6 separate regions of the Homo sapiens genome follow, and all the other regions are reported to be linked to region 2. The links are microRNA targets in miRTarBase. Many come from high-throughput screens and were not tested one by one. Region 2 holds a microRNA gene; each other region holds the end of a gene's coding sequence.
What was found. Region 2 holds the annotated microRNA hsa-miR-101-3p (UACAGUACUGUGAUAACUGAA, at 2,983-3,003, opposite strand). A microRNA usually pairs through its seed, bases 2 to 8, with sites in the 3' UTR of a target mRNA and lowers its output. Matches are read on the target gene's strand: a 7mer-m8 pairs with bases 2 to 8, a 7mer-A1 pairs with bases 2 to 7 and ends in A, and an 8mer does both.

Region 1 (4,088 bases), not on the chromosome of region 2:
TAGGTGGTTAGGAGTACGCATTCTGGATTGGTAGTTTAATTGCCTGGCCCTGGAAAAGGCAATCTTTTCCCAGTAAACCCCAGATGCTAGAGCATGAAGAAAACAGAAAATAAGAAAGTATAATTAATGCATTCTGTGTGCACTGATGGAGTCTTCCTTTGCTTCCCCAAAGGAAGAGTGCACAGGAGCCTGGCACTCCTGGACCTGAGGAAACCCTGAAACTGTTGGTATTTGCAGATCCTCTCCAAAAAGAGTTCACCGATCTCCTAAGACTGCAAACCTGACCCCAGCATGCTGGGAGCCAAGAGGGTCTGCGGATCTCCCTGCTTAGCAAATTGTGTGTATATATATACACACACACACAATGAAATACTATTCAGCCTGAAAAGAAGAAAATCCTGCCACTTATGGCAACAGGGATGAATTTGAAGGACATTATGTTAAGTAAAATAAACCAGACACAGAAAGACAAATACTGCATAATCTCACTTGTATGTGGAATCTAGAAAAGTCAGACTCATAAAAACAGAGTGTAGAGTGCTGGTTACCATTCTATACCATATATATATCCTATTGGTTCTGACTCTCCGGAGAACCCTAAAACATATGGCAACTTGAAAATATAAACTGATTCACAAATTATTTAAACAAACTAGTGAATGGTATACATTGAATCGGCAGGGGGCTAATAAGGTTAGAATAATAATTACCACCATGGATTGAGTGCCTCCTTTGTGCTCAGTGCTTTTAAATACGTCTCCATCCTCCACTTTGGGAGGCCAAGGTGGGTGGATCACCTGAGGTCAGGAGTTCAAGAACAGCCTGGCCAAAATAGTAAAACCCTGTCTCTACTAAAAATACAAAAATTAGCTGGGTGTGGTGGCAGGCGCCTGTAATCTCAGCTACTTGGGAGGCTGAGACAGGAGAATCGCTTGAACCCGGGAGGCAGAGTTTGTGGTGAGCTGAGATCACGCCACTGCACTCCAGCCTGGGAGACAAGAGCAAAACTCAGTCTCAAAAACAGAAAAAAAGAAAGAGTGGAAGCCAGTAAGGTAAACCAACAACACAGGGGTTTAGCCAAATAAAGTCCTTAAAAGCCAAAACTACACATGCATCACTACCACTTACCCAGGCAATTAACTCTTATCCTATGGCACTATTATAAAAAACCCCAAATCAGATGGCAAGTCATGTGACTTAGTTGGTGCCACCTGGAGCAAAGGTCTAGGATGAACTGCCAGGTTTGCACCAGACAGGGTGAAGTCTTAGAAAAGAATCTGTGTAACAGGGTTGGTCTGAGACTGCAGGAGCCAGGAGAGTTTCTAGGTAATGCAGACCCTTTTTGTTTCTCAAAAACAACTTCAGTCAGTCAGTATCGACAAGAAAAGGACAACTAGTATATCCAAGATATCTTACCTGTCCTATTTGTTGGCATCACTGCCTAGAAGGGAACTCCTGATCTGGAAGCTCGTTCTCAAGGTGCCACGTAAATTGATAGCAGCAGCTACTCAGTGCTGTGTTCACCGAAGTTAACAGATCTGAGGCTTCTAAGACCTTACTTGGTATTATCTAAATGTATTACTCTGTTCTTACACTGCTGCAAAGACCTGAGACCGGGTAATTCATAAACAAAAGAGGTTTAATTAGCTAATGGTTCCACACGCTGCAGAGGAAACACAGCTGGGGCAGGAGGCAGGGCGGCTCTGGAAACTTACAATCACGGCAGAAGGTGAAGGGGAAGCTGGCATATCCAACATGGCTGGAGCAGGAGGAACAGAGCGAAGGGGAGGGGCTAAACACTTTTAAATAACTCACACACTATCACGAGAACAGCAAGGGGAAGTCCACCCCCATGATCCAATCACTTCTCACCAGGCTGGCCCCTCCTCCAACACTGGGGATTACAATTCAATATGACATTTGGGTGGGGGTCAGGTGTGGTGGCCCACAGCTGTAATCCCAGCACTCCCTCAAGTGAGGCAGGTGGATCACTTGAGCCCAAGAGTTCGAGACCAGCCTGGCCAACATGGCAAAACCCCATCTCTATTAAACTACAAAAATTAGCTAGATGTGGTGGCACACACATGTAGTCCCAGCTACTCAGGAGGCTGAGGCACGAGACTCCCTTGAATCTGAAAGGCAGAGACTGCAGTGAGCCAAGATCACACCACGGCACAGCAACCTGGGTGACACAGCAAGGATCGGTCTCAAAATAAAAAACAAAAATAAAAAGAGAGAGATTTGAGTGTGGACACAGAGCCAAACCATATTACTAAATATTGTTAAGCTATCCCAACGGGCATATTAATAGGGAAGCCAGCGGGTGGGGAACTAGGACAAAACTGTTCCTTGTTAAAAAAATGTCTGGGAATAGCTAAAATAAACCCAGTACAGCATCTCAATCCTGGCTACACATCAGAATGCTTTGAGATTAAATGCCTCACACTGTTTAGAGGCAGGCAGGATAGGCAACCACTGGAATTAAAAAACCTTTCATATGAAAGGATGAGGTTTTTGACACAGAGTCCTCCCTATACACGCATTCCCCTAACTTACTTGACCACAGAACTTGGAGAAAACACAGCTAAGAAAATGCTGCTCCAGATAAGAAAACTATGTTGAAAACATGGAAATAATGGATCTGTATATCATACAATGAAAACTACACAAAAGAAAACACACATGAAGATGTTGCTGACATGAAAACCTTTCTTTTTAATTTGGTTGATACACATTTGACAAAATATTTTAGAATAAAATAATCCATGAACAGGTACAAGGTATTTACAGTAACATAATTGAAAAACATAAAATCGATATATTTCTTTAACAGAAATGTCTATAAAATTTTCTACTGTGAATCTGGAAGACTTTCAGTTCCTACTTATCAACCTGGTCTTAAGCCCCAACAGGCGACATGTAAGGCCCAGGAGTAGGATATACAAACTCTAACACATTTGGCAATTAAGAATCATCTATTAGTGTGAGCTGGCAGGCGGTGGGTGGGGGGTGGGGATGGGGAGGGAAGAACCAGATCTTAGGGTAAGATACAGAATGGAAGACTCCACTGAAAACAACTATGGACAAGAAAGATCTAAAATCACACTTATCTTTCACTTGTCTCCTGTGGGAGAAGGCTGCAAACTATTTTAAAGACTTAGTCAATTTTTCCCATTAGCAGAAAATCAGCAACCCTGAGACTCCAACATTTCATGACATAAAAGCTAATAAACATCTAGAAGCTGATTAAGATTTATAAACTAATTTTACATCAGATAGAAAATAACTCTTATGATTTAAAAATACATGTAAGGAAACAAAATTTCTCAAATTTATTTTTCATGCCTAATTCTTAAACATTTCAACTAATATTTTCTATTGTCTGAAATTAGTTCCACACACAGATACACTTTAACTGAATGCTTTGAGTACAACTTGCTCTTGATTATTAAATGGAATGCCTACTTCCTTGTATTATTATTCATACATATTTAAAAGAAATGAGAAGTTTAATCCATCTGGACTATACAGAAATTTATTGACTTACAAGATAGTCACATAGACAGAGACCAGAAAAAAATGATCAAATGCTCATTCTTAGTAACACAACTGAGACAGTGAAACACGGTACACCATACATGTCATCTACTGATCCAACTATGCTATCTGATAAGCTATACTTACAAAGAATGGTTCCAACAAACACCTTTGTAGAACAAATATTCACACTGTGTTATCAAATTTGCTGCTCCTCCAGTGGCGGTTCAAGAGCTTCCATTAGCTTTTTATTTGCCTCTTCATTATGCCGGCTTTGACAATGAGTTAAATGTTTCTTAAAACCTCTTGGGAAATTTGATTCAAAATTACAACGTGGACATTTAAGTAAACTTTGCCCATGGGCTGCTACATGATTTTTAAGGAGAGATTCCAAAAGAAAAGCCTTTCCACAGATTGTGCATTTGTAAGGGCTATGAACATTATGCTTATTAACCAAATGATGCAAAACAGCACCTTTTTTCATAGCACGACAGCAACAAATTTTGCAATAATACTTTCCTTTTCCACGCTTCATGTATTTTGCAATCTCC
Region 2 (4,088 bases):
CGTCTCAAAAAAAAAAAAAAAAAGAGCACAGTGGGTAAGGGAAGCAGTGACTGGAGGAGACTGTCCAGGTCTGAACCCCACTTACTGTCTGTGTGACCCTGGGCACGTAACTTGACCTCGCTGTGCCTCAATCCCATCACCTGTAAGACGGTGCACATGATAGTACTTGCCTTTTTTGCCCTTATGAAGTTATGATGAAAACCAGATAAGTTATTATGTCTGAGTGCTTAAAACAACATCTTGCACACAGTAAACACGGTGTTGTTTAAATAAACATCTACCTTACAGAATTCTTAGGATCAATAAGATGTGTGTAGTTTGCTCAGTAATGTGACTAGGGGAAGTCAGTCATAAAAATAATAACTAGAAATTAAAATTTTTTAATCCATAATTTAAAATTAATGGATATAGATTTATAGGTAGCTGGGCAGACCACTTACAGATGACTTAAACCCTAAAATCACCCAAAGCAAGTTTACTAGGCCTCCTGGGGTTCAAAGTGACCTGACCGGGCTACTCTAGCCACACTGCCTCTGGGGTAGTCCTGCTCCTCAAGGAGCAGTTAAAAAAAAAAAAAAGTGACCTGACCAAGGGACTGGACTGCAGCAGGGTGAAGGGGTGTCCAGGCAGGAACCACAGCACCCAGCACTGACAGCTCCTCAGGCACGTTGCCAGGAGCACTAAGCATCTGACTTAATCTAAGCTTCGTTCCATCTCCACAAGTCCAGGACTTCAGGACCACGCACCTTATCTACAAATGACACCAAGGCTCCAAGATGCTAAATACCATTTCCACGGTCTCCTGGTAGCGCGTGGTAGAGCCTTAAGTCCAGATAGGCTGGACTCCAAGACTTGTGCACTGGCAGAATGCAGAGAGCTCTGGTAACTGCAGTCTCATTCCACAAATAATTTCTGAAAGTGCTAATTAAGATGCATCTTAATTTTTGCTATTTTTCTTGCTGTTAATCCAAAAGTATAAATCCTCCCTCCCTAAACTGTAAAATTAAGCTTGTTGAATGGAGGGTGCAACTACTGTCACTAACTGTAAGCCACCTAAAACTCAACAAATTTAACAGAAATAGAATCTTCATATACCAGTGATTATCCAACAGTATTTTATTCTACTGAAAAAAAATCTCTTGGGCCTTTCTAAAAGAGTTTCACATTGGCCGGACTTGGTGGCTCAGGCCTGCAATCCCAGCACTTTGGGAGGCCAAGGCGGGTGGACCACGAGGTCAGGAGATCGAGACCATCCTGGCTAACATGGTGAAACCCCGTCTCTACTAAAAATACAAAAAATTAGCCAGGCACGGTGGCGGGTGCCTGTAGTCCCAGCTACTCGGGAGGCTGAGGTAGGAGAATGGCGTTGAACCCGGGAGGCGGAGCTTGCAGTGGGCGGAGATTGCGCCTCTGCCCTCTAGCCTGGGCGACAGAGCGAAACTCTGTCTCAAAAAAAAAAAAAGAGTTTCACACATACAGACTTACTTTCTCAAGTAGCACAGAAAACCACCAACAGCAATCCCAATGCTCTTTACATAGACATTTAAAAAGCTGTTTTATACACACGAAAAACAGGTCCAAACTGCTTGAAGAAATGCTTTTTTTTTTTTAAACCAAGGAAGGTCTTGCTTCTGGTTTTCTTTAGAAATCTGAGGTTTCACAAAACAGGTTTCTATGACTTTAACTACACATAAAAATAAATGTGTTAGTTTGGTCTCCAAAGCTCTTGAATCCATTAGAATAAACTATTCCCCCACCATGATGGTCCTCACCGTGGATTTCATCCCTTTTTTATCCTCAACTGTACTCACAAATACAATGTTAACTTTGCCTGCTGCATCCTGCCTTTGCCCTTCATCTCTTTGTGCTGCTGGAGCTGTCCATAGTGATTAGGGGCAGAAAGAGTATGAAACAGATCCAGCTTTCTTGAAAATAGACTCCCTTACCTGTCTTTATGCTAGCTTACCAAAAAGAACGGAGGCTTCCCTTTCCCACCCTGGCAGACCCGTCTGCACAAAGCTCTGGGAGGCAGCAGAATATCTCTAAGCCCCAGCCTCAAGATACATCATCTTACAATTTGTGCTACTCCTTTAAAGCTCCATTCAGAGCAGGACACTGTTTTCACAGGAGAGGAAGTCATTTTATGCAAGTTTTCTGGAAGAAAAGACACTACAATTAATGTTTGGTGAGAAGATGTGTTGAAGAGGACACAGGAACTTTCAAAAATGTCCAGTCATATCTTGAGCATCTCTGCAAAGCTTGAAAACATCATACAGGTCCTGGAGCCAAATTGAAAAATCTCCAAAAGCAAAAGAAAAAAAGTGTCACGAAAAAAAACATATATGTATTCCATTTTCACAGAATGTTCTGCCAAACCCCATGCCCCAGGACCACACACATTCAAGACAACACCCCATACCTCATACCGTGTGTGCAAGCAGGACTTCCCCAGGCCTGAAGCAAGGGCTGGGAAACGGCAGCTACGAGCCCAGCTACAAAGCCGGTGGGGCCACAGTGGCCACACAGCTGGCAGCCGCCTCCAGTGAGCTCTCTACAGGAAGCGAGTCTCTGTACCTAGGGTGCCATTCTTCCAGCCCTCATCTCCTCTCCAAGTACTTAACTACCAAGTCTATTTTAGCATTGTTTACTACTGATGTTACCACGCCATTTAGGATTACTCAATTTTAGGTATCCTGTCCTACGAAATACTTTTACACAAGCTATCAGGAGATAATGTGGTCCTTACCAGTTTCCTGCTTATCAGTCTTCCCTCTCTGCTAACAGAATGTATTCTCTTCCATTTTCCTGTTCTAAAAAAACCTCCCACCACGAATTCCAAAAAAAAAAAAAAAAAGAAAAAAAAAAGCCTCCATAAGAATTTATTTCAAGCTCCTGGTTTTCATGCCCCCAACGCCATGGCCCAAGGGTGCATAGCCCCACCGCAGTCCTCAACCCTTTCTCAATGTGATGGCACCACCATTCTTCAGTTATCACAGTACTGTACCTTTCAGATATACAGCATCGGTACCATGATAACCGAAAAAGGACAGTTCAGTCTCATATCTACCTGAATATTCCCTGCCACCCAGCTCACCAACCTCAGATGGGCCATATGATGATCTCCAAGTATGCAAGCACGTGAAAACACACACACACAATGTCAGTACTCAAATAGGCTGTTTTCCGCAACCTCATTTACTATCAATAGGAAATGCTTCTTTCACAGTGTCATTTATAATTCAAGTCTTCTGACACTGTTCTTTTTGAAGAGTGCTTGCTTTTACACCACAGCAGTCAACTTCTGCTAACATTCAACAATCCAAACTCACTTCTACAATTCCCTACTAGTCCAGTAGCATTAATACAAACTCTGTCTTTTGTCATCTTTCCCAGTGAGCTCATATCCTATCATCTTAGACAAAAAGCCTGTTTTCCCACAGCAAGTTAGACAGCTAAGGAAAAGAATGATTAAAAAAAAACTAGTAATAAAATCCAAGCTACACCAAACCAGGAGTTTACCTCTAACCTGGAAACAAAATCTAAAGCACGAACAAAATAACTGCCCAATAGAGATCATGCAATTTCAGTTACCTGGGATTAAGGAAGGAAAGAAATGCAAAAATCCTTGTATGTAAAAATAAACACCAGGTTAAGAGTGACAACTGCTGGCTGATTTGAGGATAAACACAAGCAGGTGTTCATAGTGCAGGCTCTGTGCAGCACAACACCCTTTGTCATTTTGGGCAATGAGAAAATTACACTGGACAGAATAACGAGGTTGAAAAAGAATAACTTACGTGTAGGGAGAGAGAGGGCCTAGCAGGACTTTGGAAACATCCTGCTGTCCAAGGGTCATGAGTAGTAGCGCCAGGCTTTGGTTGGTCGAGTCTACGCATCCACCCTGTAAACACAAATTAATAATTGTACAAACCAGAAAATGGAAAGCCAACAAAAGAGAGGAGGAAAAAAAAAACCAGAAACATACACTCATAATATCAAAATCCAAAGTTCAAGCAACAATAAAACAGAATACAGGTCTTATAAGAGTAATCATTGTATCAACTAACTGTAGAGGGTTAAACTAACAG
Region 3 (4,084 bases), not on the chromosome of region 2:
TGGGATTACAGGCATAAGCCACTGCGCCCAGCCAGTAACGTTTCTTTAATAACTAGTATTAGGAGTGGGTGGGCTCTGTAAGCATGCTGTATTCATGTTTTAGTATTAATGGTATAGAACTATATACCGTTATGTGCTACAAATTAGCTTTTCAGTACCATTCCATTTTGATTTCTTTTTTCAGATTGCTACATGGATTCAACGCAGAAGGTATTCATTTTTCCTAGGTATTTGGAAAACAGAAATTTTCAAGGTCAAGAAAAGAAATGAATTTTGTATTTTTTGTATTTGAGAAGATAATGCTTTTGCTTTACTGAGACATTATTTACTTGACTATTTTTGGTTCAATACTACTACTGTTGTCACCATTTATGATTCTGAATTTTAAAGTTGGAAAGTTCTAAGTATCAAAGTTTTTAATATATAATGCTGGTCCAATCTATTCATAATAATCTTCAAGTTCAGGAGCCGCAGAGACGCACAACTTTACACTTATCATTTCTAACAGTTTATTGTATAAAGATGTTACTCTTCTATTTACTGTTATATACTGTAAGGCCTTCTTTAGGCCTTTAGCTCTGTTCCTCCAGTAATAAAAAAGTTAAAATATGCTTCACTAGTCACACATTCCCCATACCATTTCGTGTTATTCACATTCCCCGTACCATTTCTTGTTATTCACATGTACAGTAAAACAATTGTTTCTTAAATTATTTTTATTTTGGTTCTCTCATTCTCTTCCCTATTTATCCTATACAGTGTCTGTTACGATTGCCTACCTCTTTCGCTATCCTATAGCGTCAGAGACTTAGGGTTCTGGGTAAGCCCAAGTCTGCTACTGCCACCGTGCAGTGCCAGGCATATTAAAGGGCATGACTCCCAACATGTAAAATGAGGAAGCTAAACTGGAATGAAATTAACAATAAAATTATCTTTTTTTATGGTTCTTAGGGAGATAACTATAGGCTTAGCAAAATTTCAGAGGGTTTTGTAATTGAAACTGGTTTCAACTTCAGAAAAACAGCCATTTCCCATAACTACAGGTTCCCAGTATTCCTATGATTTCTGGACAATTAAAATTTCCAGTTCCTTTTTCATATACCTGGTGCTTAGTTTTAAGCTATTTTAAAACTGTCAGACTGAGAATTTCAATAGATGTCATAAACTAGTTTTATTAGCTACTATGTTTAAGTCAATATAATACTAAGTGCTGTTAATATACTATAATAGAGTTATAGTAGCTATTTTGTTTCTATAAAAAATTAATAAAAATATCTTTATTGATATTTGGCTTTTTTTAATACCTAACTTAATAGAAGAGTGTTTCCAATTAATTTAACAAAGCCAGATTTTGAAATCTGGCTTCAAAGTCATAGTAAATGTTACTACATAATTAAAATAATGCTTGTTCTTAATGTATAATCCAGAACAAAGGCATCAAGCTGCTTTTGTTAAACAAATATGAAATAATATACATTAAGAGTAGATTTTTTTGTTTAATTTCACAAAACTATTTTGCAGAGTTCACTTGTATCATCTCTATCCTTATAGTAAAAATTTTAAGATTTAACTCGGCTTTCTCAGGTTATTTCCCTCTACCCCTATGAACTGCTGAGTTTTAGTTCCTTTTCTGGCCTTCAGTTTTCACTATCTGTAAAGCTGAAGGACTGTATTATATTACCTCCAGTATCTTTTCTGGTACTAATTTTTAAAATACCTGATCAGAATGAAGCCATCATAGTGTAAGGCAGCATATTTGTCTATAAGGAGACTTTCCAAAGACAGTACCCATCCAATGCAAATAATAAATTTGAAGCTAATCATCTGTTGTGCTTTAAAATGAGCAAATTCACATGTCTTTATTGCCCTTTGAAAGTTGGTTAATCTCAAAAACTACCTTTTTTTTAAATATCCTTTGCAAGGTCAATTGTAACAGTTCTCCATCCTTCCTCTTCCCTTTGAAATAAACACAAATAGAATATATCTTACAGCTGCAAGAAAACCTGAGTCCTTTCCAAAACAAAGGTGACTGAAGTAAATTATCTCTAAAACTTATTCCATAGACTTCATTTATTAATAAGCATATTGTGAAAATCTACATTTGTTTTAGATTTCATGTTTACAGAGCTTTTCACAATTGTATTAGGATCTTTCACAACTACTCTCTGGGTTTTATGAACAGTAAAGAATCTGGCTCATGTGACCCTCTATTCATAGCTCCCCTTTGGCTCCTGTGAAGGAGCTGATAGTTCCCTGGAGTAAATAAATCAAAACAAGATATCCTTGGGAGATTTTTAGCTGTTAATCTACTCCTGGACCCCATCCTGGGAACTGAGGGAAAACTCCTAGAGAGATATACAAATCTTTGAACAAAATATTTACATGAAAAGTGGCCAGTTTTCTTCCTTGGAGTAGCAATCTGTAAAAATAAGTGCTGCTGTTTAAAAAGTAGCATGCCCTACACCATACCAATGTATTAGTGAGAATTTGGCGATTCTCACCAAACAACAATGAAGTTTCACATTTGGTACTGGATGGAGCTTGGGTTAGATCTGCCTTTTAAGGCAAAGTCAACTCTTTCAACTTAATTCTTTTTCAAGGGAGTAATGTACTGTCTACACTTGGCTTAAACTAACTTCTATTATGGACTACTTTCAATGTACATGTAAATGTTCATGCATCAGAAGCCAATTTCTTTTAACAGTACATAGAAAAGGTATATTTTGGGGTGCTAATGAACACTTCAAATTAAGTAATGATATTGGTAAGGATCAAACTGCACTATTAGTCTTGTTAATACCACACTGGCACACACACTGCATATATATGTATTTTCCTAAGATAAAACTCTTCTCAGAATTTCATTACTTTTTATTATACACCAACTAGTTTATATTGTAGTTCTTTACAAAGAAAATGCTAAGAAAAATTATAATCACATGTTATATGGTTTTAAAATAATAATTCCAGATTTCTTTACATATAAGATGGAATGGTCCAGCAGCTATATCCACTGTCACAGACTTTAGTTCCGTTCAATGATATGGCACATCCTGCAAAATTAACTAGTCACACACAAAAAATGTCTCAAATACAGTAAAAATGTACACACAAAGGTAATTTACAATGACAAGGAATGTAATTTTTCTTGGCTGTGCTTCAGAAATTTAGGGTCAGTAGCCTTAATCAAGGCACAAAGCAGGAAAAGGTGAGCACAGCTGTCTCTAGGAGTGGGCAAGGTATGTACAATCACTGATGAGGTATGCATGCACGCAAAGGATTTAAAACTGCTCAGTCTCACTACAAAAATTGAACTGAGTTAAAAGGAAATGCTGTGGCTTCCCCCTACTATCTGGCTCTGGATTGAGTCCACAGTCTTACTTCATCAAATAGAAAATAAAACTGACAAGGATCTCCAAAAGTAAATCACTATTTGTGTAAATGAAACAAAATGCTTCATTAATCCCAGTTCTTGGTTGTGCCTCCTGGACTAGAAGCATTTTGTAGACAAAAGAGTGTTTCACAAAATTGAAATGTAATTCAGGTGAAGGACAAAACATTTTCCACAGACACTTAAAATTCCAAACTTTCAAATGGCCCTTACAGCTGAACCGTTGTATGTTACAGTAGTGAGGGTTCTGGGTATCCTTTAGCAGCAAATGCCGGTTTAAAGGGCACGGGGTCTCTTCGGGTTGATTTGCTTGCTGGCTTGTTCCTCCTCTTGTAGAGCTGCACGGAAAGATTTCACTTTATCTTGGAAAAAGAAAAGAAAGAGGGAATAAGTATTGTATTACACGCAGTAAGAGTTTACAACTTTATGGGTTCAATCAAGTCAGCTGTGTTATTTCCTAACAGTAACTCAGTATTTTTCCTTTTGTTCTTTGTTGTCTAGAAACTCGGAACTAAATAGAATGCTCAACTATTGCGAAAGTTTTTTGTTACAGATTTCCAGAAATACCTGTTTTTCTGTATCTTTCAATAGCTTTCTGTTCTGTTTGGCACATTTACAGTTCTCTGTTTTAATTTATTGGAATTCCTCCTAGAGTATAGGCAGGTTTCACATTGTAAAATACATAGTCTACCT
Region 4 (4,087 bases), not on the chromosome of region 2:
GGTGCTGTCAGCAGAGGCTGGGAACCACGCAAGGAACCTGGATTCGCTCCTGCGCCTCTAGCTGCCTACCCCGCCCCAATGGTGCTCCTCCTCCTGACCAGAGAGTTGGAGAATTTCAGAAAGGGATTCTTGAAATGTGAATAGAAGGTCCTGGGCAGAGGCCCTCGTGACTTCTGTGTGAAACTGACCAGAATTAACACAGCAGAAGGTTTGCAAACTGAGCTTCAGTGTGGAATACTGCCCAGGTTTGCAGATCAGCCTCTGGGCAGCACGAGCAGGGTGGAAGAGCATTACAAAGATTCAGAAAACGAAACTGTCACAGCAACCACAGCCCACAAGAGCAGGCCAGGCTCTGCACACCAAACCTAAGCCTTAGCCACAGAAATGGGCATCGAGCCCTAATAAATATTATTTTGTTGGTTTTGGCTCCTTATTCCAACCAGTAAAAGCATGAGCTACCCTGGCTAGTTTTATGGCCACTGGAGATTTTAAAAACCTGCTCAAGACCGGACACAGTGGCTCATGCCTGTAATCCTGGCACTTTGGGAGGCCAAGGTGGGGGGATCACCTGAGGTCCGGGGTTTGAGACCAGCCTGACCAACAAGGAGAAACCCCGTCTCTACTAAAAATACAAAATTAGTTGGGCGTGGTGGCGCATGCCTGTAATCCCAGCTACTCAGAAGGCTGAGGCAGGAGACTCGCTTGAACCTGGGAGGCAGAGGTTACCGTGAGCCGAGATTGCGCGATTGCACTCCAGCCTGGGAGACAAGAGAGAAACTCCCGTCTCAAAACAAACAAACAAACAAAATAACAATAAAAAACCTGCTTAAGGTGTTAATCCAACAAATCCATGAAAAACTAGTAAGCTGTTGTAATGGCTCTGTGACCTGTGAGACAGCCATGTCTCATGCAAATGTGGCCCTGTCCGGGGTACTGACTCCGTCCCCCTTAGAGTTCCCCACCAAGGACTGTGGCTTAAGGAGGCAGATGGGGTCGGGGGATACCCATGTATTAGGCTGACTGGAAAACTGTGGGGCTTATGTGTTCCACAGCAAAGGAACATGATTCTCTGCTGTTGTTTCACTGGTCACACCTTACTTTAGGCAATGGAAATCTAGGCATTTTAAAGGTGTCGTGCACTAGATTTCTTTGTAAGACTGAAAATGCTTGGTTAGAGTAAATTAGGGACTTGAAATTCTTTAATTTTGCCTTTTTTTTTTTTTTTTTGAGACAGAGTTTTGCTCTGTTGCCCAGGCTGGAGTGCAGTGGTGGAATCTCGGCTCACTGCAACCTCTGGCTCACAGGTTCAAGAGATTCTCTTGCCTCAGCCTCCTGAGTAGCTAGGATTACAGGTGTGTGCCACCACACCCGGCTGATTTTTCTATTTTTTTTTTATTAGAGACAGGGTTTCACCATGTTGGCCAGGTTGGTCTTGAATTCCTGACCTCAAGTGATCTGCCTGCCTCGGTCTCTCAAAGTGCTGGGATTACAGGAGTGAGCCACTGCGCCCAGCCAGGACTTGAAATTCTTACAGTAAGATGTACCTGTATCCAAGGAGAAGGCTACCTGTGTGGATCCCTTTTCCTTTATGGTACTGACAACTTTTATTTTAGACTCTGGTCAGTGCACAGAAGGTGGAGATTTAAACTTGTGCTTCAAAGGCCAGCTGGAGCAGGGCCAATTAAACTTACTCCAACTGATTTCTGGGTGTGAGAGGATGCCAGAGGCTCAAAGATGGAGAGCAGGAGGGGTCGGGGTCCTCAGACTCCCATCAAAACCAAAAAGACAGGCCGGGCATGGTGGCTCACGCTTGTAATCCCTGCACTTTGGGAGGCCAAGGCAGGTCACCTGAGGTCAGGAGTTCGAGATCAGCCTGGCCAACATGGTGAAACCCTGTCTCTACTAAAAATACAAAAATTAGCTGGGCGTGGTGGTGGGCGCCTGTAATCTCAGCTACTCGGGAGGCTGAGGCAGGAGAATTGCTTGAACCTGGAAGGCAGAGGTTGCAGTGAGCCAAGATCATGCCACTGCACTCCAGCCTGGGCAACAGAGTGAGACTTTGTGTTAAAAAACCACCACAACAACAAAAAACAAAACCCAAAAAGACAGGGAAGAATGTGGGAGGCAGTTCCTAACATTCTGAAAGGGATATGAGTGATGTCCCATTTGAAAATGGGAAGCTAGGAAGAAAAATTGATCAGCTTTTCCCAAAATGGTTCACATTTCATAAAACCTTTCTGATGAGCTCAAGGAGGGACGCTATCAGATAACACAAGAGAAGGAAACAGAAGTTGTGTGCCTGATGATAAATCAACATAGTAGATATAATGACCTGTAACTATGAGGTCTGAAGAATTCTTTGAGGTCCAGGAGGGCTTTTCAGATGAGACCAGGCCTTGACAGTGGGGGCAAGTCCTACCAACCTGCACAGCACATCCAGCAGGACAACTGTGGCTCAGCAGGTGCCAAATGGAGCCCATGGGCAGAAGATGCCCACAGCGTTCCAGATGTGTGTGGTCTGAGAGATAAAAGGACACAGAACAAGATGACTGTGCAAATAGCCAAGTGGTGGCAGAAGTTCTGCATTTCCAAGAGATGATCCACTCAATAATTTGACGATACTAGTTGGCCAACATGCTCAGAGAAAACAGACTATCCACAACTGAGCCTCATTCTCTCTCAGATCAATCCATGTGCTGGAAACTATTTTCTGCACAAGCAAAATCAAATGAGAAAAAAAACAGGTCCCAAACTAAAGTAGCCAGCAAGGTTGGAAAATCTTGTCCAAAATCATCTGTGATGTGGGGGAAGTTTTATTTGTTTTATGTTTTTGCTACTACGGGTGCTTTTATTGCAACAGTGACTTCTTTCCTGTGGACTCTGAGATCTTATCAAGTCTGAACAGCAGGGTTGAGAAGAGTCCTGAATGCCGCCTGTTGCTTACCCAAGTCCCCGTGAGGCCAATCAGTGTCATCTGCTGAGGATGGAGATGGGGCCGAAGGAGCTATTCAGGGGTGAGGCAGGCCGCTCCCTGACCGAGGGGCCTCCTCCACAGCCTGCTGCCTGCCGCCTGCCGCCTCCAGCCTGGCTGAGCACATTGGACAGTCTGCTGACTCAAGGAGATGGGGAGGGGAGCTGGTGGTCTACACTGAAAAGGGGCCGGCTAAGTCAGCTTCAGTGGAGAGAGGAACAAACCAGGAAAGCCATGGAGGAGGCAGCTCAGGCTGGCTGCCCATGTGCAGAGAATGGCACACTGGCTCCGCAGACAGCAAGTGCACAGAGAGGCTGTGGGGTGTTATTATTCAGGCTTGGACTCTTCCTGCCTCCAATTCATTTCTTGCTGATGACCCGGCAGCTACATGCACGGGTTCCAACAGTCAGTCCCTCAGCCCAAGCACTCTGTGGTGCTGAGCAGCCATCAGGGTAAGCAGAGTCCGGGGCTCAGAGTCCGTTGGTGTCGATAGCTGTCACAGAAGCAGGTGTTGAGGAACGCGATGTGGTTGCCGAGGTCTTGTCGAGGGCTGGGCTGGGCACGCTGCAGTCGGCGGACCTGGCAGAGGAGCCCCTGCCTACAGGAAGCAGCGGCCGGCCCTGGCCGTGGGGGCTCTGGCCATGCAGGTTCTGACCACAGAGGCGGTGGTGCCGCTCCCAGTCCTTGTGCTGGCAGAAAGAGCCACAGTATCGCGCGATATTGCAGCCACTGCATGTCTCGCTGGCTTTGCGGCCACAGTTCCAGCAGTTCTGCAAGACACAGGCATCAGTTAGTGGTTGCTGGGATTGAGGGGCAGGCTTGCCATTCATTCCCTGCACAGTAAAGCAAGGGGCTGTATGTAGAGAACCCCAGCTTTGGAACTACATACACCTGTGGTCAACTCCGCCCTCTACTGCTGTTTAACTATGAGAAATACACACTGCCTTTCTGAGTTTCCTTCATCTGTAAAACAAGAAAACTACTTCCCTGCAAGATGACAGGAACAGTGAAATGAGATGTGTGTGTGAAAATACCTTACACAGCACCAGCCTAGGGCAGGTGGCCATCTCTCCTGCCTAAGGCATGGACTCATCTTTTGGCTCATTTTAATAGTCA
Region 5 (4,088 bases), not on the chromosome of region 2:
TGTCTCTCTCTCTTTTCTTTTTCTTTCTTTCTTTCTTTCTTTCTTTCTTTCTTTCTTTCTTTCTTTCTTTCTTTCTTTTTCTTTCTTTCTCTTTCTCTCTTTCTCTCTCACACACACGCATGCGCACACACATACACACACGCAGACCCACCAGCTACATTTGGCAGCTGGTTGATCCCAAATTTGCTGCTAGGAGTAAGATTTGTGGGCTCGGCCTGAATCCTTGGGACCAATTTCAGTGCAAGTGACATGATGTTCCGCCCCCTTTACCAGCCATTCCCCTCGCCTTGGTTTACCCATCTGTAGAGTGGGTGGATCTAATTCGAAAATCCCCAAGGCCAAGTTCTAAGATTCGCTAAGCGCCAAAGGGACTGAGAACGATGAAGAGGCCCAAGGTTCATTGGGCCCAGGCGGCAGTTGCTACTGCTCCGGGGACCAAGCCCAGAGAAGGCCGAGAGGGCTCAGCGCAGCACAGGGATGCAGGCAGTGGGTGAACAGAGATACCCTCGAGTAGGGAGCAGGACTGTTCTTCATCTTTCCAAAAAAAAGAAAAAAGAAAGAAAAAAGAGAGAAAGGCGGAGAGAAGATAGAGGAGAAAGTAAAGAAAAGGAAGAAAGTAATACTGCAAATTTTCAACGGGAGCCGCGTCTGCGGCAGAAGACCCAGGTAAAGACATTGGTCTGGGTCGCAAAATACGGCGAGAACTCCTTGGAGGACAGGCTGGACCCAGAGGTCGCCTCCAGCTCCCAGAATCAGACCTCAGGGCATTCTCGCCAAGGCAAACCGCGGGACAGCTTGGAGGGAAACAGCCATAATCTGGATCAAACTGAATTCATTTGAGTCATTTTCCCCGGGCAGCCGGAGCCAGTCCGCGGAGCTGGCCCAGGCAGGGGGCCCGAGAGTGGGAGAGAAAGGGAAGGGGCGCCCGGGTCCGCAGGGTAGGTGGAGTCTGCGGTGGAAGATGGAGCCGCCAGGGGTGCGACCGGGACCTCTGTGGCTTTTCCTACTCTAAAGAAACTCCCGGATTCTTTCACCGCCCAATCGGCAAAGATGGAGAACAAACTACCCTCTTAAGACGCAGCAACAAGCAACTGCCTTTTCAGAAAGGGAGAAAATCCCTCCTCCTAAAAAACCCCTCAGTAAGTAGTGATCCCTGGGGAGAAGAAGGGAGGAGATTCTAGTATTATCGGAAATGTTCCAACTCTCTACAAGAAAAACACAGTCATGATTAATTGTATAATTTAAATAGAACTGTAAAGCATTTTATAAAGAAACGAGATGATTGCATTTATAAAGAAACGAGATGATTGCAAGAACCATATGGAAGGTAGTTGGACTCCAGTGGGGGACCGGGTGGGAGTGTGCATATCCCGAGGGCCTTTGCTTCTCCCTTTACATTTTGCTGTTTCTGGAAGCGGGGATAATTTTGTAAAACGCTGGTCACCACGCTCCGCCCGGGCCAGATCCGAGGGCTTGAGGGACCCCAGGCCAAGGCCTTTAGGGTACCAAAGCTTGGAGGCCCGGGGGCTGGGAAAAGTCGCGGTTGCCTTGGAGAGCTAATCGACCTTTCGGCCCCAGGTGAAATTGAAAGAAGCCTTGGCCAGGGTTTTGGTGTTTCCCGACTCGGGTCCAGCGGACTGGAGGCCTCAACGCCCGCAATGTGGCATTAACTCTTCCTTGCTCGCCGGGAACTCGGCTTGAGCTGCCAGTGAAAGTGAGCATTTAGCTCCAGTGAATCCGTAGCATTCTGGGGAGTCTGGGAGCGCCAGCTGCGTATGATCATCTGTAAAATGGGGTAATAAATAACGGTGCCCTGCCCATTCTCTGCTCCCCGGGTGGGCTTCGGTGTGTACCAAATGACGCCCTTTCATTGAGTGCGGGGAAGCGCTTTGAAACCTTGTAGAGCCCCAATTGCACCCGTCCGAGGAAAACGCTCGGGTGACCCTTCTCCGAGAGACAGGTTATTCACGCCTGGTTTGCAACTAATCGCTTCAGAATTTTAGCGGGAGTTTTCACTAAACCACTCTCAAAACTAAACACTAGATAAGGTAGAGAAACGCTCCTAAAATCGAAAGCAGAGAACAGGGTGGGGTGGGGTGAGGGGAGATGAAAGGGTCGGTACATTGGGATGGGGGATGGACATTGGCTGGGGGTTCAACCATGGACTCTTACTAGGCTCTGAAACCAATGCTCACAGGGAGGATGGGGAGAAATCCTAGGAATTTGTTCCCGGTTTCAGTGGGATTCATCCATTACTCCTGCAAAGCCCCCGAAGTCATGATTTTTCTGAGCTGCCCAGGTTTATAACCTGCCTGAGGAGTGGGCGGGCAGCAGGGCTGCTCCCAGGAGAGACTAAGCATCCTTGGTCCGAGACTAAAAGGAGGTTGGAAAAAGCCCCAGCTATTTCCAGCTCGCCTTACTGGTTCCCCAAAAGTCGGGAAAAGACAGTTTCAGAGAAAACGCGGCGTCCAGGAGGGCATGTTAAACTAAAAGTTTATAAATTAAAGAAAAAATACAGCGAATAGAGCTTCCAAACTTCACAAATCTTTTTACAGTTAATACTCTAGTTGAGTGCACAGTGCCATTAAGGAGGCGAAAAGCGGCGAGGTTGACAAGACAGGTGGGATCACCTGTTTAAGGGTAAGTGAGGGGCGGATAGGGGAGTCCCGGGCCAGAGCACTGGAGTCGCAGAGGGCAGAAGGTAGACACTGAGGGCCAGGCAGCGGCACTGCGGTGGGCGCCGTGGAAAGGCTGGCCAGGGATATTCACATTGAGTAGAAAAATAATCGTCATTTGAATACAAACAACTGAAAAGTGCGACACGTCTTAACCTCCTTTACACAAATAAAAAGAAACCAAGGAAAGTTTCCGCAGAGGGCTGCCTGGGTGTGCGCTCTCCTCCTTCCGGGACTCCCAGGCGCTTCCTGCTTGTGCAGGTACCTGGACTTCAGAGAAGGAAGATGTGGAGACCCCCGGCTTGCACCACACTTGGAGGCTCCCCTCCTTACATTCAGCACCCGAATCGGGCACCCCCACCCTAGCTCTGACACACAGGAGGGGTGGAGCAGAGGGCCTGAAAACCCAATCCTTCACGTTTCAAATCAACCCCTGGCCTGGTGCTGCCTGGGACTGCCAGGGTTTCGCACCCCTTGGTTACAAATGCAATTTCCAAAAATAAAAGATATGTAGATACACATAGATTGGTAGCATGGATACCATGAACTAGTGTGGCCTAGTGCAGAAAGCTCCCAGCAGGCCTGAAATTCTGAGGATTCAGGCTATGTGGTCTCCAGGAGTTGCCGCTCAGGGAAAACCCCACCCCCAGGCAGACATATTCGAATCAAAATTTAATTCCAACATTGTCATGATAATAAATAGAGCCCAGGGGCTTCCAGGCAGGTGGGCGATCAGGGCCCCTAGGCCATAGGGTGCCTCTGTTCAAATTAGAAAAAGGCGCCCCCTCAGGGCAGACTCAGCCCAGCTGCCAGGGGACAAGTCCTGGCTAACGGGAGCTGGAGCTGGGTTTCACCTCCAGGTGCCTCCTTGGCGGGGCGCCCCGTGCAGGCTACAGCCTACAGCTGTCAGCGCCGGTCCGGAGCCGGAGCGCGGGAATCACTCGCTGCCTCAGCCCAAGCGGGTTCACTGGGTGCCTGCGGCAGCTGCGCAGGTGGAGAGCGCCCAGCCTGGGAGGCAGTAGTACGGGTAATAGTAGGAGGGCTGCAGTGGCAGAAGCGAGGGTGGCCGCAGCACTTCGCCGGGCAGGTATTGTCTCTGGTCGTCGCGCACCAGCACCTTTACGGCCACCTTCTTGGCGGCGGGCGCCGAGGCCAGCAGGTCGGCTGCCATCTGCCGGCGCTTTGTCTTGTAGCGACGGTTCTGGAACCAGATTTTCACCTGCGTCTCGGTGAGCTTCAGCGACGCGGCCAGGTCTGCGCGCTCGGGCCCGGACAGGTAGCGCTGGTGGTTAAAGCGGCGCTCCAGCTCGAAGACCTGCGCGTGGGAGAAAGCGGCCCGCGAGCGCTTCTTGCGTGGCTTGGGCGCCGCCGGCTCCTCCTCCTCCTCCGCGACGCCTGCCGGCCCGCTGCCGC
Region 6 (4,088 bases), not on the chromosome of region 2:
GTCACCAGCACAATCTACAATGCCCGGCCAGCCCACCCTGATGAGCAATCCAGCTGCTGCCGTGGGCATGATTCCTGGCAAGGATCGGGGGCCTGCCGGGCTCTACACCCACCCTGGGCCTGTGGGCTCTCCAGGCATGATGATGTCCATGCAGGGCATGATGGGACCCCAACAGAACATCATGATCCCCCCACAGATGAGGCCCCGGGGCATGGCTGCTGACGTGGGCATGGGTGGATTTAGCCAAGGACCTGGCAACCCAGGAAACATGATGTTTTAAGCTGCTAAGATGGGATGTGCCGATCCTTGTCAAGATGAGATTCCAGGTCCTGAGAGCTGCTTTGAGGGAGTTCCAGGAGTACTTACTATTGGTCATGCAATAGGAGAACAGAGACCCGAGGGCTGCTTTGGGGGAGGGGGGAACTCGAGAATGTATGGATTTACCTGAAAACAAATTATTCATTTAATCAACAGGTGTGTTTTTTTTAAGATTTATTTTTTAAAAATTATTTTTGTGGACTTGGGTATCAATGATGGCACCTACTTTTGGGAATCTGTAGCTGTGCTTTGAGAATTGCCATCGGTCATGTGTTGCACCGTTCTCTGTATGTTTACGTCCTTTGGACTGGCTTCTCCCAGGATTCTTTTCTGTTTTTGTTTTTTTGATTTGGGCTTTATTTTTTTCTGTGTACTGTACTATATTGTAAAAGGGATTTTAGCAGAGACTTTAGTCTTTGGGGCAAGAGGAGAACAGGAATGCTGGGCTGTTTACTTTAGGTGGAGAATCCATCTTCAGACCTTTGGACTATTTTCTTTCAACTGCAGTGTATAGAAAAACCAAACTACGACCTCAGAGCAGAGTATTAATGAAAAGCACAAAAAAAGGAACTAAGTTCAGCGAGGGGTGGGGGGAGGGGGGAGATTTTTCTTTTGAAAAATAATGACTCTTAGGACATTTGTTTTTCAGTTCAAGTGCTCTTCAGCACTGTCTTGTCTCCCAATATACCAACCCACTGGCACATTTTTCTCTTGTTTTCTCTCTCCGATTTTGCTCTGTCTCCTCAGTTAAGTGTTTCCTTCCTTTGTGCCCCCCGCTGGTGACCCTCTGCTTCCCTCTCTCTTTCCCTTTGGCAGCTGCAATACACAGTGTTATTTTGGGGAAATAAATCTAGCAAAGCCTCGCCTTCCATGCCGAGCGTCCTCTTGGCTCTGAGAGGGAAAGGTCTGTCCTTGGGATGCTCTCTGGTCTTTTTTCCCCCTAAGTCTTTCTCTTTCCCATCATACCCTTCCCTGCCCACCTTGTTTTCTGTTCTCCTTTTATTAGGAATTCCCAAGTGAATTTTATTAATGTGGGAGTGGAACAGATGCTAAAAGCTATCCAGGATTTTGTTTCTGTTTGTTTTAAATTTTGTGGTTCCTTCCCTTTCCTCCCCCTCCCATGCGTAAGACGTTCTGTGTAACCTCCATTAAATTTGGTACAAAACCACTCGCCAGAGCTGTGGTGTCAGAAAAATAAAATATATTGTTTCTTACAAAATTGAACTGCCTTTTTTGTTCATTTGGATTCCTGATTGTTTAGTATTGGGCATACCGGTTGCCATGTGACCCAGAAGCGTAGACTCTTTGTATTGGAGTTGATCAGTAAGGTGATGGTTAGGGAAACCACATAAAAGTACCTTCTCAAAGCATATTCCATGCTGTTAAGGAATAACTACTCATGTAGGTTTATTCTGTACTGTTCCTATCTCAGTCATGAAATCCTAGTTATAAGCAGAAGAGCAACCCTGGTCCCATTGCTGAACTTTACCTTTAGGGCAATTAATGGTCTTTATTAGGAATGTTTGTGAGAGCCAGTTTAGTGGTATGAAGTAATTAAGAAGGCCAAAGGTTGTATGTTTAGTTATTTGAATAAGCTATGAGATGTCCCTTGGTCTTGTTAAGGTAGAATATTATTACTATACCTGCAAATTATGGGTTTCCACAGTCCGTGGGTTTCTGTGGTCCTTTCTGGCTCCCCACCTCCCCCTTACCCCATCACCTCTGCTAACGCTGCTCAGTCTTTGTGCACAGTTCACTTCTCACCACACACATCTTCAGCAGATCAGTGTGTATCCTGCAAGGTATGTGCTAATGGACTTGCTGTTGTGCTTCTGTGCAGTTAATTCTGTTCTGGTGTGTGTATTTCTTTGAGTTGTAGGTGTTTTTAGCTCAGTGAGTGGGCGTCTGTGTGCGTGTTTGTTCTTAGGTGAGAGAATCTAAGCGAGGAGCGGCAGGTGCAGAGTCATCTGCAAACAAACTTGTACAAATTGGGCTCTGCTGGTGTTTCACAGTCTGAGCTTTTCTCTCCGACAATTGTTTTGGAGAGCCATTTTCTCTTCCTTTTCAGCAGCCCTGTCTTCTCAGTAACACAAGTGCCCCAGACAACAAAAAATGTGGAGATGAACATTTGAGTACCTACTCTACCAGTCGCCTCCCTGCACTTTATCTTGCTGATTTTTAAGGGGCCCTGTGAAGTGAGTGGTAATGATCTCATTTGCAGATGAGAAAACTTGAGCTCACAAGTTTAAGAATTCTGATTCAATCTGATGTATTCTGTTGGTGCTGGGTAGTGAAACTTTCATGTTGTAGAGAAATTAGGATAGTAAAATGAAGATTTTGTTTCACGAACTTAGCCATGTTTCTGGGTTCTCTGGCTTTAAAGTATATAGATGAGAACAGACTAACAGCCAAGCATGGGCAGCACAAGATGAGAACCTGAAGGAAGGGTCCCACCTGGCATTTGTCTACTGGTCTGGCTTCTTGGGTTGCTCCCCTCCTTGCTGTACCCAACAGTGTTGCAGTCACTAATGGTGTGTGGTCCTGTTGTTACTCTCACAGGCAGGGAGTCAAGGCATAAAAGGTACCCACATAGGAGAGCAGGTACTCACTTAGAGGGCTAGCAAGAGACCGGTGGGTCTGGCTGCTGTGGGCAGCTGGATGTGTGGCACTCCTCTCGCAGCCCCCTGCTGGAGAACTTGGGGCAGTGCAGATCAACTTCCCCACCTGAGTTTTTAAAATACCCCATCATACAACTTCATTCACTTTATCAGCACATGCCATTTCATCACGATAATGTCTGACAAGCCAAATTTAGGGTCTAAATACAACAATTTATCATTTACTAAGATTGTTATAAAATAAAATTACCTTTAGAGAGACTGGATGCTAGTGCATGGAGAACTGATGCAAGATTTTTTAAAAATCAGTGGAAGAGTGATGAAAGATGTTTCATATTAACATATTCCTGTGAAAGCCCAGCCAATCTTCTCTCTTTCCTCTCCTGAAGTTTGGGACTGAATGGAGAAAATGCAGTAGTGACTTGTTCACTTCAGGGGAAAGTGGTGGAGTGTGTGTGGCTCATAGCATTTGTTAAGGACTAACTAGAAGTATGTAGCATTTTCCCTGAAACAATGTAAAATAAAATAATTTACTTTAGAAACGATTCTGCACTTATACATGAAAACAGACATAATTATAGGGGTCTTATGAAGGAGGCGGCATGAGAAAATAAATTGAAAACAATTTTACATATTTAAAGCTACTCCTTAAAAAATGGATCCAACATTTCTCCCAGCCTCCCTGCGCTCTATACTTCTTGATATTATCATCACAACGCAACTGTGGTCATCTGTGCCACCTGTGCAGTTGGACAGGACTCCGGCTTGGTTTAATGCTCCGCTGTCACTGTTTGGAGTTCTTAATTATTGAATAGGGGCTCCACATTTCCATTTCGCCCTGGGTCCCACAGATTGCTTAGCCAGGCTGTTGTAAACAGAAATCACAACAGCTCCACAGAGGTGCTGGGACCTCAGTCTCCATATTTATTCTTTCTCCTTAACTAGTGGCCAGGAGCACCTCAGGCAGGGTACTTGCTGTGTTCCGCTTAAACTGTCTACACTTCAGTCATTTCCTTTTCCTTTTCTGAGTAATTTCAGGGTGCTGAAAGGAGAGGGAAGTTGCATTTTAACCCGAGGACTCATTATTTAGCAAATATTTATAGAGCACCTACTGTGTATCAAGAACTGTGCAAAGGCTGGGATGTGGAAACA

Region 1: miRTarBase lists CHAMP1 as a target of hsa-miR-101-3p. Seed matches in the 3' UTR shown: 7mer-A1 at 2,786-2,792.
Region 3: miRTarBase lists DIMT1 as a target of hsa-miR-101-3p. Seed matches in the 3' UTR shown: 7mer-A1 at 549-555.
Region 4: the mRNA of CBFA2T2 is a reported target of hsa-miR-101-3p. Seed matches in the 3' UTR shown: 7mer-A1 at 1,530-1,536.
Region 5: miRTarBase lists NKX3-2 as a target of hsa-miR-101-3p. The part of its 3' UTR that is shown has no 7-base or 8-base seed match.
Region 6: miRTarBase lists BCL9 as a target of hsa-miR-101-3p. Seed matches in the 3' UTR shown: 8mer at 689-696.

Annotation. Positions count from the first base shown.
Region 1 is chr13:114,325,930-114,330,017 of GRCh38, reverse strand. CHAMP1 (chromosome alignment maintaining phosphoprotein 1) reads right to left here. Exons shown (of 3, transcript NM_032436.4): 3 at 2,696-4,088. The coding sequence ends at 3,737. LINC01054 (long intergenic non-protein coding RNA 1054) reads left to right here. Exons shown (of 3, transcript NR_126391.1): 3 at 173-261. Among named protein-coding and RNA genes, the nearest start is that of LINC01054, 6.0 kb to the left of the region's middle.
Region 2 is chr9:4,849,260-4,853,347 of GRCh38, reverse strand. MIR101-2 (microRNA 101-2) reads right to left here and starts at 3,051; the gene lies at 2,973-3,051. RCL1 (RNA terminal phosphate cyclase like 1) reads right to left here. Exons shown (of 9, transcript NM_005772.5): 8 at 3,798-3,901. LOC124902113 (a long non-coding RNA gene) reads right to left here and starts at 2,981. Exons shown (of 2, transcript XR_007061402.1): 1 at 86-2,981.
Region 3 is chr5:62,385,153-62,389,236 of GRCh38, reverse strand. DIMT1 (DIM1 rRNA methyltransferase and ribosome maturation factor) reads left to right here. Exons shown (of 12, transcript NM_014473.4): 12 at 185-1,983. The coding sequence ends at 227. KIF2A (kinesin family member 2A) reads right to left here. Exons shown (of 21, transcript NM_001098511.3): 21 at 1-3,753. The coding sequence ends at 3,668. Among named protein-coding and RNA genes, the nearest start is that of DIMT1, 17 kb to the left of the region's middle.
Region 4 is chr20:33,644,001-33,648,087 of GRCh38, reverse strand. CBFA2T2 (CBFA2/RUNX1 partner transcriptional co-repressor 2) reads right to left here. Exons shown (of 11, transcript NM_001032999.3): 11 at 1-3,741. The coding sequence ends at 3,442. Among named protein-coding and RNA genes, the nearest start is that of C20orf144, 16 kb to the left of the region's middle.
Region 5 is chr4:13,538,354-13,542,441 of GRCh38, forward strand. NKX3-2 (NK3 homeobox 2) reads right to left here. Exons shown (of 2, transcript NM_001189.4): 2 at 2,477-4,088. The coding sequence ends at 3,640. Among named protein-coding and RNA genes, the nearest start is that of NKX3-2, 4.1 kb to the right of the region's middle. RefSeq lists a silencer at 3,951-4,080.
Region 6 is chr1:147,624,680-147,628,767 of GRCh38, forward strand. BCL9 (BCL9 transcription coactivator) reads left to right here. Exons shown (of 10, transcript NM_004326.4): 10 at 1-1,537. The coding sequence ends at 280. Among named protein-coding and RNA genes, the nearest start is that of ACP6, 44 kb to the right of the region's middle.